Regions from separate parts of the Homo sapiens genome. Here region 1 is linked to region 2. The links come from fine-mapping of genetic effects on gene expression. A gene starts in region 2. The other region holds a variant in brackets. All regions are shown on one strand. Distances are between the middles of the regions. Region 1 overlaps LOC105371466 (a long non-coding RNA gene). Region 2 holds the start of NCSTN (nicastrin).

The links.
Region 1: its variant is fine-mapped to the expression of NCSTN in whole blood (INTERVAL, PIP 0.98).

What each region holds. Positions count from the first base shown.
Region 1 is chr1:160,377,344-160,380,253 of GRCh38, reverse strand. LOC105371466 (a long non-coding RNA gene) reads left to right here. Exons shown (of 4, transcript XR_007066686.1): 4 at 2,194-2,839. Among named protein-coding and RNA genes, the nearest start is that of NHLH1, 12 kb to the right of the region's middle. The variant A/G (reference allele first, on the strand shown) is at 1,164.
Region 2 is chr1:160,341,747-160,344,656 of GRCh38, reverse strand. NCSTN (nicastrin) reads right to left here and starts at 1,274. Exons shown (of 17, transcript NM_015331.3): 1 at 1,176-1,274. The coding sequence starts at 1,260. COPA (coat protein complex I subunit alpha) reads left to right here and starts at 1,407. Exons shown (of 33, transcript NM_004371.4): 1 at 1,407-1,526. The coding sequence starts at 1,487. RefSeq lists enhancers at 1,205-1,254, 527-1,474.

The sequences.
Region 1 (2,910 bases), 36 kb before region 2:
TTGCTTGAACCTGGGAGGCAGAGGTTGCAGTAAGCTGAGATTGGGCCACTGCACTCCAGCCTGAGTGACAGAGGGAGACTCTGTCTCAAAACAACAAACAAAGAAACAAACAAACAAAAAAAAGAAAACATGTTCAGAGATTTGAAGTAACTCACCCCAGGTCACACTGAAATCCATGTGCTAGCAGATAGATGATTTCAGTAAAGTTCAATGTGGTGAGTGCAATGATAGAGATATGCATAGAAAGACCAGGGAGCACACCAGGAGCCAAGCTGGGGCTATAGGAGAGACACACCAAGTTGGGGTACTTTTCTGAAGGCAAGGACATCTGCATTGTCTTGAAGGATGAATAGGACTCGTATAGGTGAAGTACAGGAGGAGGAACAACGGGAGCAAAGGAACGGCAGTCAGGAGTAACATGGACTGTGCCAGAGAGCTTTGAGTGCCTTCGAATTGTTAGAGCAAAAAGTACAAAGGACAGAATGGCCGATGGGGCTGGACAAACTGGCAGGAGCTGCACTGTGAAGGGACTTTCATACCATGTTGAAGAACTTGGGTTTTATCCTGGGGAAATAATGGGGAATCATTAAAAGGATAGTGTAGAAGTGTCCTGGTTCAGTTTGCATTTTGGGTAGCTAAGTCTGAGGGCAGCCTGAAGGGTGGACCTACGGGGAGGAAGCCGAAAGGCAGGGAGACTAGCTAGGCCACCGCAATAGTCCAGGTGAAGAAAAGCATTGGTAGAACTGGTAGAAAAACAGAAGTCATGTTTAGGAGGTAAAATGAATAGCTACTGATGATGGATTGGAGGTGAGACTAGAGGGAAAAACATGTAGCAATAGTCACGGCAACTGAATGTTGATGATACCATGTTTTGCCGTGGGGATACCAGGAGAGGAGGAGGGTTGAAGAGGGGAGAAGATAAGGTGGCCAGTTTGCAACATGTGGCGTTGGACATTCCTGGGAGATATCCTAGTAAAGAGGTACAACTTTTCAGCTACAAACCCAGAAAGCCAACTTCCTTCTGGGCAGCTCCACGGGAAGGCTCCTGGGGGGCTTTCATTCAGTTTGTCCTTATTACACCACCTTACTGCCACCATCTCCACCACAATTCTCCACAACGTTCCTCTTCCTACGTGTGCTACTTTGGAAAGTAGCACCACTGT[A/G]CACCCAGGCTCCCAGGCCAGAAACCTGGGAGTTCTCCTCTAGCCTGCCACATTTAATGAATCACGACATCCTGTTGAATCTACCATTTAAATAGCTTCCTAAATCTGTCCTCCCTTCCCCATTCCTACTGCCGCTACCTAAATACAGACCCTCAGCTTCTTGCAGCTGACTTTGCGATAGCCTCCTAAAACTGTTCCCTGCACAGAGCTTACCTTTACGCAGCTATGATCAGAAATGTCCTAAAAGTGGCCAGGCGTGGTGGCTCTCACCTCTAATCCCAGCACTTTGGGAGGCCGAGGCAGGCAGATCATTTGAGGTCAGGAGATCGAGACCAGCCTGGCCCAACAGGGTGAAACCCCGTCTCTACTAAAGTACAAAAAATTAGTCGGGCGTGGTGGTGCCCGCCTGTGCTCCCAGCTACTTGAGAGGCTGAGGCAGGGGAATTGCTTGAACCCAGGAGACGGTGATTGCAGTGAGCCAAGATCACCCCACTGTACTTCAGCCTGGCGACAGAGCAAGACTCCATCTCAAAAAATAAATAAATAAAAAATTAGCCGGGTGTGTTGGTGCACACCTATAATCCCAGCTACTTAGGAGGCTGAGGCAGGAGAATGACTTGAACCCAGAGGCAGAGGTTACAGTGAACCGAGATTGCACCACTGCACTCCAGCCTGGGTGACAGAGCAAGACTCTCTCTTAAAAAAAAAAAAAAGAAAGAAAGAAAGAAAGAAAGAAAGAAATGTTCTGAAAGTGATATTTCTAAAGTGTACATCTGATGATAGTGTTTATCTACCCCACTAGAGAATGTTCATTGGTTTCCCATCACTGTGTGGCCAAGCACACACTCCCTATTATGCTTCTCCTGACCTGGCCCCTGCTTACCTCTCCAGACCATTCCGTCACTTTCCTGTCCCACCAGCCCCTTGCACTTAATGTCCCAACAATACCACACTGCTAATAGTGTGCTCTTGCTCACCAGAGCTTCTCAGGGTTCCATGCCTTCATACCTACAGTGCCTTTCCTTTGTAGGTGGGGTTCCCTGGGAAGTGGATTCCTGAACTCTGAGATCGTATACAGGAGAGTGCCAGCAGGAGAGTTCTTGAGAACACCTGTGAGGTGTGAGGGAAGCTGCAATAAGCCGAGAGAGAAACTGAAAAGCAATGCAATGGCAACAGAGGCTTCTGTCCATCCCATGGGGGCTCTCAAGCTGGGATAACTTTGTAACCCCACATCAACCAGTCATTGCCCTAGGGAAAGAGCAACACCTCAGGCAAGGCGGCTTTCTTCCTCCAAAGGCAATTCCTGGAGAGGGACTCAGCTGTGAGTCAACACTTCCACAGCTGGAGAAGTGAGTGGAGCACACCACAGAATTCACTGTACGTATCTCATGGTCTTCAAAACCCAGCTCAGAGTTTACCGGCTGCCTTCCTCACCAACACCCTCTCTCAGGTAATCACTCGCTTCCTTGCAGATGCCTCTCACTGTTGGGAAACTGATATGTTTACATGCCTGTCTCCCATACTCCCTCCCAAGTAGGTGGTGGGGAGGGCCTGATCCTGTATTTCAGAATCCAGAACAGTGCCCGGTATACATTGGCTATTCCATAAAGGCATGCTGCACTGAATAAATTGAAATCAACCAATGAAAGAGGTAGCTACAAGCTTATAAAAGAAGGAGGCTGGAGTTTAATGCTAGAAAGGATAAAAGGGACATAGACAGTAGAGATTCTCACTTGGGAACCACACT
Region 2 (2,910 bases):
TTAACCTGAAGTATGGCTTGGGTAAATCATTTAATATCATACTTTCTAAAATGAGATTAAAGTCCATTCTTCTGATTTCTTGGGCACACACTTATCGTAACAGATACATGTTCTACATGGCACCCAGCTATGTGCCTCAAAGGGTTATTACAAAGTCCATGTAGCGCCATTGACAGTGACACTAAAAGAGAGAAAACTTGGTCAAAGGAAAGGTGTTTGACCTTAGATTTGCCAGATTCTGGTTGCACAGGTGATCACACTTCTGCTTGTATATCCTGTATGTATATTACTAATTGGTTAATACACAGGTGCTGGGCTAAGAAAACTTTCTGAGGCATTTTTCCAAGAGTGTGAACAGAATTGAGAGAAACCTTATGACATACACGGGTCAGTTAATTTAACATCAGCAGGTCATTTGTGTGCCCACAGTGTGGGGCAGCTGTAGTTTCTCCTTTGAGGATCCTTAAAAACAATGTGAATTGGGGGAAGGCACAGTCATAGTTATATACAGGCATTTGCATTTTAGGGCTTGACCAACTAAAAAGCCATGTATCAGTAAATGAACGCGTATCAGCAAACACTTAAGTACATTATAAATGCCAAAAGTTCCTTGAATTGTTACTTCAGGGTCTTCACAGTTAAGAGTACCCATATCCTACCTTATTCTTGCTTTACTGATTAAAAAAAAAAAAAAAAAAAAAACCTGAGGCAAGGCAGGGGGACACAGACTTAGGATGTAATCAACAGAGGAAGAAATAAGAAATCCACCTTTTAAGCGCCGCACAGCACCCACAGAACAAGATTGCTTTCGTCTCAAAAAGTCTAAACGCGAGGAAGAAAGCTAACTTTCACACCTGTTCCTTTCGACTGTGGGGTGGGTGGCTGGGGTTGTGGGAAAAACGAGACATCTGGACAAAGTGGGAGAGGGTCAGGCTCGAAGTCCAGGAAGAGGCCTAGAGAAGGGAGTGAAGCGACACGACGTGCTGCGGGGGAGAAGGGACCTTCAGGTCCAGGCAAAGGGGGAACTTCTGTCGTGGGAACGAAAAAGAAAGAGGATTTACAGGGTGGGGGGACAGAGGGGCAGCAGGAACCAGAAGGGAGACAGTGGCGGTCGCGGCGGGGCCGATCCGAGAGTTCCCCTTAGAGAACGGAGCTCACGGGCGGGGAGGCCTCACCTGCTAGTAGGACGCAGAAAGACAGAAGGCGAAGGAGACCCCGACTTCCCGGGTCAGCCCCAGAGCCACCCCCTGCCGTAGCCATCTTGCCTCTCTGCTGAGCGGAAGCCCCCGTTCGGCTCCTGTCTGTTAGCGGCCTCTCTAGGCTACCACTGACACCGTCTCTGTGGCCCGGAGCCTAAGAGACCGGAAGTTCGTGTTTCCAGGCGCTTCCGGAAACCGCGGGAGAGGGTCGCTGACGTGGAGGCGTCCGAAGGGCAGCAGGGTGTGTCGGGGCTCGGATTAAGACATCGGAGTCGGAGACCTGAGAGATGTTAACCAAATTCGAGACCAAGAGCGCGCGGGTCAAAGGTAGTGGAGAATAAAAGGGGGAACATGGAGGTTGGATGTCAGGAGCGGCGCTGACACCGGGGAAGAGAAAATGGGTAGAGGTGTTGGTCGAAATGGGCCCACCAGACGGACCCGGAGGAAGACGGAGGGTGGGAGAGAGGTTGGGCCTGGCTAGCGGTTCTCCAGTCCCCTCTTCTTTGGTGTGTCCTTGGGCTTCGATTTACCTATAAAGTGGCTCCCACACTGCAGGGGATTCCTTAGACCCCCTCCCTATTCTTTCTTCCCCCTTTCTCTCTTGGCTGTGCTCCCGATTTGTGTTGTTCTGCTCCAAAGGCCCTGTGATCTGTTGGCTTTTTGATGACTGTGTTATATGGAGTGGCCCTGGGAACTGAGTCTCGATCTCTGTTACTCGCACCCGAGTCAGTAGCCTTTTTGGAGACGAGTAGTGGCAACCTCACTTAAGGAGGCCTTGGCTGCAGCATCTCAACATCAGTGCCTCCATTCGGCTTTATTTACTACCCGGAAATAGTACTTGAGGCTTATAACCCCAATAAAGTCTCAACTTGATAGAGTTGCCAGATAAAATGCAGGATACCCAGTTAAATTTGAATTTCAGGTAAACAATGAATAGTTTTTTAGTCTGTCGTTGCTTACCAGAAGTTCAAATTTATCTGGAAATCTCGTATTTTTATTTGCTAAGTACGGCAGCTCTAGAGCTCGAGTGTGGGTCGTTGGGGGTGGAGGGCAAATACTGAGATCGCAGTATTAGCCTCAGAACGTTAGAATGTGAAAGTCAGAGAAGTAAGGTCTCCGAAGACCTGGAAAAAATAGTATCTAGAATATTTAGTGAGATGCAGCGTAACAAAGTGGTTAGGAACTTGGTCTTTGAAGTCAGATGGGCTTGCCTTGGAATCCTGAGACATCCACTAACAAGCTGTGACTTGGATGACTTACTTAATGTCTCTAAGTCTGTATTTCCTCATCTGTAAAATCGTCTTTTATAGAGAGTATTAAAATGAGAAAGTATATGGAGTGTATTTATTACAGCGCCTGGTGTAGACTCAGTAGCTCAAAAACTGGAGGTTGTTATCAATGTGTGAATATATTCTGAGCAGTTTCTAAGTCTCTTGGGAAACTTGACCTTGAAAGATGGGTACCATTAAGAATTTCTGAGACCTGTATAGGTGAAATGTGAAATGGGTCTTCATAATCTTTCAGTTTTCTTTTCTGCTCCTAATTTCTTGCTGGGCAGTACAGAAGGAAAAACAAAGATGTCATAATATTTGAGGGCAAACATCCATTGTTGAGTGTACTTATATATCATAATTAAAAAAAAGAACCTAATGGAAAAATAGACAATTTAGAAGAAAAATTGTAAATGTTCAATAAATAATTAAAATAGTTC